Homo sapiens: one gene and its partners. The protein of the gene in region 1 interacts with the protein of each later gene in a pairwise test. Each region holds a gene or a part of one and is shown on either strand. Other genes may lie near its edges.

Region 1 (3,751 bases):
TGGGACATGGGAGGTAGGGGGAGGCGTGTTCCAGCCTATGTTGGCCGGTGGGCAGGTGCTCAGACTCAGCAAGCTCCTTGGGGTCATTCATCACCCCTCCACCCATTCATCCTCAAACACCTGCAGAGGGCTTCCTCTGCCAGGCTGTCAGGCGCCAAGGGCACAGAAATGAGAACTGACAGTCCACTGGGGGAGACGGTCTTCGCATGGTCTTGCCCTCAGTGTAAGGCACAAGAGTGGTGCAAGGGGGCCTAACCAGGCCCCCAGGGTAAATACGGGTTGCGGGGCTGTCTGGGGGAATGGGGAAGAAGAGCATTCTGGGCTGGGGGCTCCACAGGCTCAACACAGCTGGAGTGAGCCACAACAGTGAATCACGAGAAATGAGGCTGGAAAGGCCAGTGGGAACCATGGTCCTGGAGGTGGGCATTGGGTGGGGAGCTGTGCTTCAAGCTGAGGGCAGGATTTTCAGCACAGATGACTGTGTTCTGAAAGATCCCTGTGGGAAGAGTGAGGAGAGGGGTGAGCAGCAGCCAAGACTGGAGGCAGGAGGACCAAGCAGCGGGTTGTGGCCACGTTTCAGGTCTGGAGTCACCCAGGAGAGATTCTGATCATATGGGTCTATGGTGTGACGTGGGAGGTGGAAGTTTCCAGGACAACTCCCAGGCTCCTCAAAATAACAATTTTTTTTTTTTTTTGAGACAGAGTCTCGCTGTGTCACCCAGACTGGAGTGTAGTGGCGCGATCTTAGCTCACTGCAAGCTCCGCCTCCCAGGTTCACGCCATTCTCCTGCCTCAGCCTCTGGAGTAGCTGGGACTACAGGTGCCCGCCACCACGCCCAGATAATTTTTTTTTTTTTGTATTTTTTAGTAGAGATGGGGTTTCACCGTGTTAGCCAGGATGGTCTCAATCTCCTGACCTTGTGATCCACCCGCCTCAGCCTCCCAAAGTGCTGGGATTACAGGCGAGAGCCACCGCGCCTGGCCCAAAATAAGAATTTTTTTTTTTTTTTTGAGATGGAGTCTTGCTCTGTTGCCCAGGCTGGAGTGCAGTGGTGCGATCTCGGCTCACTGCAAGCTCCACCTCCCAGGTTCACGCCATTCTCCTGCCTCAGCCTCCCGAGTTGCTGGGACTACAGGCGCCCACCACCATGCCTGGCTAATTTTTTGTATTTTTAGTAGAGATGTGGTTTCACCATGTTAGCCAGGATGGTCTCGATCTCCTGACCCGTGATCTGCCCGCCTCGGCCTCCCAAAGTGCTGGGATTACAGGCGTGAGCCACCACACCTGGCCCAAAATAAGAATTTTTAATAGAATACCACGTATTAATTTCTCTGCTTCATGCAGACAAATGAAGAGAAAAAGTATTTCCAAGATTATAAGAACAAGTTTGGGCATTGTTTGTTTGAGACAGGGACTCCCTCTGTTGCCCGGGCTGGAGTACAGTGGTGTGATCACAGCTGACTGCAGCCTCAATCTTTTGGGTTCAAGTGATCCTCCTGCCTTAGCCTCCGAGTAATTGGAACTATAGGCATTAGCCATCGCACCTAGCTAATTTTTTTATTTTTTAAATTTTTTGTAGAGATGGGGGTCCCACTATGTTGTCCAGGCTGGTCTGGAACTCCTGGGGCCACTGCACAGCTATACTGTCTGACAAGCACACATGGCAATAACCAAACCAGACTGCCTGATGCAGACTGAGGGCAGTGCTTTCGAGGTCACACTCCTAGACCCTGGGCTGGAGCAAAGAGAAAAGGAGACAGTGGTTAAGGGACCTCACAAACAACCTACCACTTGACCCCACGATGCACACAAGGAAGGGGTGCAGGTGTCTGCACTCCCATGCAGACGTGCTCTCATTCAAACAATCAGAATTGGCTTTCTGGGAGGAAACATGCTGAGGGGGCAGCTGGGTTTTAAGCTTTTTGTTGTATCCTGGCTCTCACACAGCTGCCTCCACTCTGTCATCTGGTGTCTGAGTGCCTCACGCCTGCCTGAGGCAGTGCCCAGCTGATGGCAGTCCCCCAGCTCTAATGACCCTGTCCCATGGGTGTGACCACAGGGACTGTTGCTGTGCCAGGTCAGGTTGGCTGCAGGCACTTACATGCGCTTCCCACTCAATCCTTCAGCTACAGTGAAAGAGAGTGCCCGTAAGAACGGCCGCAGGTCTCCTGGGCTAGAAACACCCCCAGAAAGCAGCTTACCTCACCAGAAGCGTTTCACATTTGGAAATTAAGATAAGGAACACAGAACTGATTGTTTCCTTCCTTCCTTCCTTCCCTCCCTCCTTCCTCTTTTTTTTTTTTTTTTTTTTTGATACAAGGCCTGGCTCTATCACCCAGGCTGGAGTGCAGTGGCACGATCTCAGATCACTGTAACCTCTGCCTCCTGGGCTCAGGTCATCCTCCCACCTTAGCCTCCAGAGTAGCTGGGACTACAGGTGTGCACCACCATGCCTGGCTAATTTTTGTATTTTTTGTAGAGACACGGTTTTGCCATGTTGCCCAGGCTGGTCTGGAACTCCTGAGCTCAAGCGATACGTCTTCCTCAGCCTCCCAAAGTGCTGGATTATAGGGGTGAGCCACCAAGCAGAATAGTTTCTTTTTTCCTTTTCTTTTTTTTGAAACAGAATCTCATTCTATTGCCCAGGCTGGAGTGTAATGGTGCGATCTCGGCCACTGCAACATCCCCGTCCCAGGTTCAAGCAATTCTTGTGCCTCAGCCGCCTGAGTGGTTGGGATTACAGGCGCCCACCACCACACCCAGCTAATTTTTTTTTTTTTTTTTTTTTTTTGAGATGGAGTCTCGCTCTGTCTCCAGGCTGGAGTGCAGCGGTGTGATCTCGGCACACTGCAACTCCCACCTCCCAGGTTCAAGCGATACTCCTGCCTCAGCCTCCGGAGTAGCTGGGACTACAGGCACATGCCACCACGCCAAGCTAGTTTTTGTATTTTTAGTAGAGATGGGGCTTCACCATGTTGGCCAGGCTGGTCTCGATCTCTTGACCTCGTGATCCACCCGCCTCGGCCTCCCAAAGTACTGGGATTACAGGCGTGAGCCACTGTGACTGGCCTAATTTTTGTATTTTTAGAAGGGATGGGGTTTCACCATGTTAGCCAGGCTGCTCTTGAACTCTCGACCTCAGGTGATCCGCCTACCTCGGCCTCCCAAAGTGTTGGGATTACAGGTGTGAGTCACCGTGCCTTGCCCAGAACAAGTTTTAAGAACTTGTTTTCTTAAAACAAGCTTTTACTTCAATAGGAAAGTATTAAAGACAAAATAAAAGAAAAAAAAATTTATAAAATAAAACAAGCTTTATGGAGGCAGAACACACAAAGCTCTTTGTTGAAATATGCTCTGAATAATAAAAAGTAAATATTTAATAAAAGTTGCTGGTGCCTGTAATTCCAGCTTCTTGGGAGGCTGAGGAGGGAGGTTTGCTCAAGGCCCGGAGTTTGAGACCAGCCTGGGCAACACAGTTAGACCCCGGCGGGGGCAGGGGAGTGAGTTTCTGGGTGGCCTCTCACCCCAGGGTGCACCTTACAATGACCACGAGGTGCCAGGAACCAGGGTTGGTTTGGCATCCACACAGGGTCAAAAAAATTTAATGGATCTTTGTTCTCTGAAAGGGAACAGGAAGGTAAACACAGGCTGCCACTATTTTTGTTCAGTAACTGGAAAGGCTGCTCTCATTTGATCTCCAAATATTTTTTTAAAAAAACAAACAGTGCTTCAGAGTAAAACTTCTATTGA
Region 2 (3,751 bases), on another chromosome or scaffold:
GGCTTAGGAGCCATTACCTGAAGCCAGAATTTCTGAGTTCCAAGTCCCAGCTCCATCACGGAACTTGGCCCAAGGCCCTTAACCCCTCTGGGCCTCAGTTTTGTCATCTTTGAAATGGGGATCTTAGAGATGCCTACCTGTCAAGGGACTTGTGAGGCGCAACGGGACCACACGCAGGGCCTGGCCAGAGTGCCGTAGTTTCTTCGGTTGCCATGATGGGACGGTGAAACTCCTCACACTCTTCTTTCTGCCTTGAAGATTCTAGACCTGGCTGGGTGTTCATCTCCCTTTTTGCCTTTGCTTGAGGCAGTTTATGGCATGGCTGTGTTATTCACGTCGCCAGGTCTCCTCCTGGTGGACGTTGAGGCCATTTTCATTTTTTTACTCTTAAAAACGACAGGGCAGTGCGCATCTTCGCATCTCCGGGGTGGGTCAGGTCTCTGACCTCTTTGCCAGTGTGACTTATTACCCCTTTCTTTCTTTGTTTTTCTTTTTGAGACAGTGTCTTGCTCTGTCGCCAGGCTGGAATGCAGTGGTGTGATCATAGATCATAGCTCACTGCAACCTCCAGCTCCTGGCTCAAATGATCCTCCCACTTCAGCCGATATTAATCCATTTTCATGCTGCTGATAAAGACGTATTTGAGACCGGGCAATTTACAAAAGAAAGAGGTTTAATGGAGTTACAGTTCCACACAGCTGGGCTGGGGAAGCCCCACAATCATGGCAGAAGGCAAGGAGGAGCAAGTCACATCTTATACGGATGGCAGCTGGCAAAGAGAGTGAGAGAGCTTCTGCAGGGAAACTCCTGTTTTTAAAACCATCAGATCTCGTGAGACTTATTCTCTATCACGAGAATAGCACGGGAAAGACCCACCCCCATGATTCATTGATCTCCCACTGGGTCCCTGCTACAACACAAGGGAATTATGGGAGCTACAAGATGAGATTTGGGTGGGGACACAGAGCCAGACCATATCAGCCTCCCAAGTAGCTGGAACTACAGGTGTGCGCCAACATGCCTGGCTAATTTTTTAAATTTCTGTAGAGACGGGGTCTCACTGTGTCACCCAGGCCGGTCTTGAACTCCTGGGCTCAAGTGATCCACCCTCCTCGGCGTCCCACAGTGCTGGATAATAGGCGTGAGCCACTGTGCCCAGCCATTTCCCCCTTATTTTTAGCATCACTACAGTAGCTGTGATCTCTGAGCTTTGGGGATATCCCCTCCCCAACATTTTACTCTGAAAATTCGAACATCTGGAAACGTCAAGGCTTTGTACAGTGGACACCTGTGTACTCGGCAGCCACCTTCCGTGATGAACATGCCTTATATTTGCTTTGTCCTCAATCTGTGATTCGGGACTGGATTTCTCTTGTTTCCTGGTGGGACCCACACTGCTTGTCAATTACTTATTTTGTTCCCCTTCATCCCAGTCTTGCTGTGACTTTCAGATACCCCCGGGTCTTATATACACTCAGGGTTATACCCAGAAAACATTTCTCCTGGGGGATTTGTCTCTAGGTAGGGGGCCCTCTTGAATAGTCAGGGGGAGAAAGAAAGACTCAAGACCAGCTCTGAGGAGGCGGCAGGGGTGCCCCTTCCCTCTACCTTGTGGGCTCCTTGGGGAAGAAGGACAAGTGAGTGCCATGAGAAATACCCCTGGGGATTTTGTGGAGCTGGAATGTGCTGGTGGACCATGAATCCACAAGGACTTGGGCATCGAACTCCCTTGACTGGGACCCACAGCAAGGGAGGCTCTGCAGCATCACCTTAATCAAATGGACTCACCCTCTCTGGGTGATGTATCCTGGTGCTTCCTCTTCTGTTCATCAGTCAATCAACAAATAAATGGCTGGGCGTGGAGGCATATGCCTGTAATCCCAGAAACTTTGGTCATTGGTTATGTCTACCTGTTTATTTTTGGGGGAGGGGGATTCATAATATGTCATGACGTATATTAACAGTTTGCAAAGTGCCACATGGGAACGTAATCTTCAGGATCTGGAAAGAGGCTCAGTCTATTCAGTCTATAGGAACCCCCGCCTCCCCCAAGACCCTTGTCATGAGAACGAATCTTTCACTCCCAAATTCCTAGAGTGACGATGATTGGGTCATTATTTTCTTTTTTATTTTATTTTATTTTATTTTATTTATTTTTTTATTTTTTTGAGATGGAGTCTTCTCTGTCTCCCAGGCTAGAGTGCAGTGGCGCAATCTCGGCTCACTACAACCTCCGCCTCCCGGGTTCAAGCAATTATCCTGCCTCAGCCTCCTGAGTAGCTGAGACTACAGGCATGTGCCACCATGCCAGGCTAATTTTTTGTATTTTTAGTAGAGACAGGGTTTCACCATGTTAGTGAGGATGGTCTGAATCTCCTGACCTTGTGATCTGCCCACCTCTGCCTCCCAAAGTGCTGGGATTACAGGCGTGAGCTACTGTGCCCAGCCTGGGTCATTACTTTCATTCAACAAAGCATTTCTCCCCGCAGTCCATGCGCACCCTGCCCACAGCTCTTTCTCATTTTCAGCATCTCTCTTCCCTTTCTAGAACATGCCGAGTTTTTGCACTGCAAGTCCAAAAAGTTTACAGACTTTGATGAAGTCCGGCAGGAGATTGAAGCAGAGACCGACAGGGTCACGGGGACCAACAAAGGCATCTCCCCAGTGCCCATCAACCTTCGAGTCTACTCGCCACACGGTAGGCAGCACGGGTGGGGACCCATCACTGACCGTTTCTGGTCGTTCATGGACAGTGCTATGGGTGAGCCTGTGTACTTCCACTCATGGGTATCATGTGCCCATTCACAAACAGTTGATATTCACACACACATAGCCCCTTGATCTGTATCTTCCCACTTGTGCTAGGTATGTAGTACCCAGACCTCTGTCTCAGCTTGAAGAAAGAGCATGCCAAGAAGTTGTTTGGAGTGGTGGGGGATTGCAGCCATTTCCCCCTTTTACCAAGGGCAGCCACCACTTGGCTCAAGGCAGCCAGATCTGCTGGTGCCTCAAGAGAGGCCAGAACCAGTCTTCTGTAAAATATCCTGGGTTTTTTTTTTTTTTTTTTGAGACAGAGTCTTGCTCTGTTGCCCAGTCTGGGGTTCAGTGGTGTGATCTCTGCTCGCTGCAACCTCCACCTCCCAGGTTCAAGCAATTATTGTGCCTCAGCCGCCCAAGTAGCTGGGATTACAGGCATGCACCACTACACCCAGCTAATTTTTTTTTTTTTTTTTTTGAGATGGAGTCTCGCTCTGTCGCCCAGACTGGAGTACAGTGGTGTGATCTCAGCTCACTGCAGTCTCCGCCTCCCAGGTTCAAGCTATTCTCCTGCCTCAGCCTCCCAAGTAGCTAGGACTAGAGGCAACTGCCGCCACGCCTGGCAAATTTTTTGTATTTTTAGTAGAGATGGGATTTCACCATATTGGCCAGGCTTGTCTCAAACTCCCGACCTTGTGATCTGCCCACTTTGGCCTCCCAAAATGCTGGGATTACAGACGTGAGCCGCCGCGCCCGGCCAAATTTTTTTTTTTTTTTTTGAGACAGAGTCTCGCTCTGTTGCCCAGGCTGGAGTGTAGTGGCGCAATCTCCACTCAATGCAACCTTCACCTCCCGGGTTCAAGCAATTCTCTGGCCTCAGCCTCCCGAGTAGCTGGGATTACAGGTGTGTACCACCCTGCCTGGCTAATTTTTTTTTTATTTTTTATTTTTTTTATTTTTAGTAGAGACGGGGTTTCACCATGTTGCACAGGCT
Region 3 (3,665 bases), on another chromosome or scaffold:
AAAGATTTTCTAACTCAACTTCAATGATTTATTCTACTAACAAAATAGTACAGGGATAACAAAGAATGAAATGTTTCAGAAGAGAAAATACTGGAAATCTTATTTAGTCCAATTCTTGTCACTGTATAGAAGGAAAATGAGCCCCAGTGGGAAGAAAGACAGCCTGGTCACCCAGACACCTAGATTCCTGGTACAACATACCTTAGTCTTTACCAGCTGTCTCCTAGGTAGAGTCCTTCTAATCTCAAACTAAGGGTCAGAGCTAGGTTATCTTTCATCCAAGATGAAGGTTTGTGATAATTACATCTTTGCAACTTCTTTTCTACTTGGCATGGGGCTCTAAAGTAGGAAAATGATGAAGGGTTTAGCTAAACCTGGAGGAAAAATATTTTGGTTTTGTGAAATAACAATGCAGATTTCAGTCTCTGTTTGCAATGGGGGGAAGGAGGAAGAGGCATTTTTTAACATTTATTTTCTAAACCAACAAACAAATCCTACCATTAGTCAAAGACTCAGGTCTTTGGAATCTGAAGCTTGTAAATTTCAGGGGCACTCTTTAAGAAGAAGAATACAAAATTAAGAATAAAGTGAATATAAAATTAAGAATAAAGTGAATATTTATTTAGAATTAAAATGGCATACAGGCCGGGTGCAGTGGCTTACACCTGTAATCCTAACACTTTGGGAGGCAGAGGTGGACAGGTTCCTCTGAGCCCCAGTGTTCAAGACCAGACTTGGTACATAGTAAGACACCATCTCTACAAAAATTAAAAAACAACAAAAAACAAAAAACTGGCCGGTCTTGGTGGTGCATGCCTTTAGTCCGAGCTACTCTAGAGGACTGCTTGAACCTAGGACTCCAAGGCTGCAGTGAGTTATGATTATGCAACTGCTTTCCAGACTGAGTGACAGAATGAGATCTCATCTCTGGAAAAAAAATTTTAAATAGTATCATACAAACAACAAATTTTTAAAAGCTATAAATACTACAAATATGAAGTGTTTAAAAAACAAATATTTTTATTAACTGATTGCCATACCTCTGAAATAATTCTCCTATATTTTTTGGTTGCACACTCTTTGATCATCTCTTCCAATAACATTTTGCAATATTCTCTATTGAGAGAATAGAAAAATAATTCAGTCTTCCCTTTAGAAATGTAGATCAGAATTTGTAATTTATTCTTGAATAATTTGGAAAAGTTCCTTTCAGCTTCATAATTCATTACAGGTAATGTCATATAAATTTTTTGGATTGACTTCAAATTTGGAAAACTTTTATCAGGTTTCTTTTATATGTGAGCTGTAAGATTCAGGGCACTGCAAGATTTCGTAGTATTTGACTTGATGACACTTGTTAACCACATTGCCAGGGCCTCTCCTAGAGCCAGGAGATGGACCTATACCAGGGTATAGGTAGCCTTGAAGGTTAAGTTCAAGCACTTCACAGTAAATCCACCTGAGCCTGGCATTTATATCCTCAACATATTTGATGCATCTGTGAAGTCTCCCAGTCCTTTCAAATAAAGTGCCTGTTTTACTCAGAATACCTAAACTTCCTGATGGCATAATTGTTCCATGATTCAGCCAAGACTGTATCACTTGAGGTATACACTTCATTTTTCCATTGAGATCACAAGACAGGCATGATGTTTGACTACCTGGTGTATAAACCGAGTGTTATTTTATTACACTAAGAAAATGCAATGGGATAATATATGAAGAATGCTAAAACACTAGAAAAATGTTGGATATTATTATTTCTCTTAACCTCTAGTCTTCCAACACCCATGCTATAATGGACAAGTAGTTTATGTCAATTAAGGCAGACTAGTCTCAGTACAGTATAACAATTAGGAATCTAGATCCCCAAACCAGACCATCTTGGTTCCAACCCCAGCCTAATCATTTTCTAACTAGGTGGACTTAGGCAAATTTATTGACTCTGGAGGATTTATAATAAGCATAATATAACCTACCTTCTAAAGTTGTTTTGAGGGTTAATACACCTGAAGTACTCAGCATGATCCGTGCAGTAGCAAGACCTCAATAAGTGGTAGCTACTATGATTATTGGGAAATTAGTCCATGAAGTCTCTTGAGAAAAGCTACAGGGGAAATAAGCCCAATTTCATTTCCCTATGTAGAAAAGTTTGCAGGATTTGGGCGTGACAGGTAGTCATCCACAAAGCAGCAGTGTTATCGCCCCATAGGAAATGAAGACTTCGTAATGATTTATACTTTAATAAAGAGCTGCTGCAGCATATACTGAAAATATGCACCCAACCCATATCTTCTTTCAAAGGCATTCATGTTGGTTCAACCAAATCCCTAGTTCTCTAAAATGAAGTTTTGACAATCTTATATCTTCTAAAGCACTGAGAAGCCTTTTTCCTTGTTTTCTTTAAAGAGGCTTGAGAAGAACCAAGCCTTTTTTTGGTTCAAATAAAATATTTACAATAGGAGGAAAAAACATTCAGATAAACTTCACCTTGCCCGCCTGGTGGTCTCTCAATACACAGAAGAAATGCAACTAGGGCACTAGGAAATCTAAAAAAAAAAAAAAAAAAAGGAAAGAAAAAAAGTATAGAGCTAAAGTTCACTTCAGGACAACGCAAACTAAGAAAAACTACATTTCCCAAAGGAAATAGAGCACTATGTCTACAAAGTAACTCATTTTTTCTTTAATGTTCAATGTTGTCTATTCCAGGGAAAAAATGGTACAATTAACCAAAACTTATTTCTACCCAACATCTCTGCAAAGGAATGTTGCTGCTGCAGATCCACCCCCAACATGGGAAGGCCCAAGGCAAGTGAGCAAATAGAGGCCCATGTACCATAAGTCAAAACATTTAAAGTTACAAATCAAGCTAGCAAACTGCTCAATAAAATAGGTGTTATCCTTCTACCTAGACTGACAAATATATCTTTTCAATGTCTTGGAAGACCAGGTACAACTTTAGAACTCCTACAATGTTCATAGTCCTTCCACAGAAATGGGTGGTTTAAAGAGAGACATCATCCTGAGCCCTGGTAATCAATTTGCCTTCCTCCCCCCTGCCTGCTCCATCCTACATCAAGAGGGGCCTTGTGATATGTGGACACCCAAGCTCGCTCTCTGTCTCTCTCTCTCTTTCTCTCTCTCTCTCTCTCTCTCTCTCACATACAGACACACACACACACAGAGCTATCCCTTAAACAACCCTCGTGCAGAGATTGCACAACCAGTAGCAATGACAGCCTTCAGGAAGATGGCTTCAAGGATCCATGCAAACTGCAGATACCAGTTCAGGGCCTTCTGGACAGCGAATGTGGGTTCCCACATAACCAAATCATGGTCTAAAAATGAAAAGAGAGTAAGACTGGAAGGCCCAAAAGTCACCTCACCCCATAGGCATGGCTCTGACCAGAGAAGAATGACAGCAGAGTACCATCTAAGGCCCAGGACAGAGGCCAGTTGTGTTCATATACTAGGTCTATATTTTAGTTGTAGAGCTGAAAAAAATTGGAGGAAAATATTCCCTCAGAAAAGAGAAGAAAAAAAAAAAAAAAAAAGAGCTGCATGTCTTGACCTTTCCCAGATAGAATCTCCCCAGTCATAGGTACGGGCCCTGAAGCTAAATCTCATCTAATAATGATAGCTTCAAACCTACAAACAAAACACAG

What was found.
Region 2: the proteins of ARFGAP3 (region 1) and DNM2 interact in binary tests that used the Homo sapiens proteins (3 or more experiments, as listed by UniProt).
Region 3: the proteins of ARFGAP3 (region 1) and TGFBR2 interact in binary tests that used the Homo sapiens proteins (3 or more experiments, as listed by UniProt).

Annotation. Positions count from the first base shown.
Region 1 is NC_000022.11:42,801,609-42,805,359, forward strand, and holds part of ARFGAP3 (ADP-ribosylation factor GTPase-activating protein 3), read right to left. Parts: intron 1-3,751.
Region 2 is NC_000019.10:10,769,931-10,773,681, forward strand, and holds part of DNM2 (dynamin-2), read left to right. Parts: intron 1-2,548; coding exon 2,549-2,698; intron 2,699-3,751. UniProt on the Homo sapiens protein: Catalyzes the hydrolysis of GTP and utilizes this energy to mediate vesicle scission at plasma membrane during endocytosis and filament remodeling at many actin structures during organization of the actin cytoskeleton.
Region 3 is NC_000003.12:30,613,021-30,616,685, reverse strand, and holds part of TGFBR2 (TGF-beta receptor type-2 isoform B precursor), read right to left. Parts: exon of another isoform or gene 2,026-3,665; coding exon of another isoform or gene 1,980-2,025; intron 1-1,979. UniProt on the Homo sapiens protein: Transmembrane serine/threonine kinase forming with the TGF-beta type I serine/threonine kinase receptor, TGFBR1, the non-promiscuous receptor for the TGF-beta cytokines TGFB1, TGFB2 and TGFB3.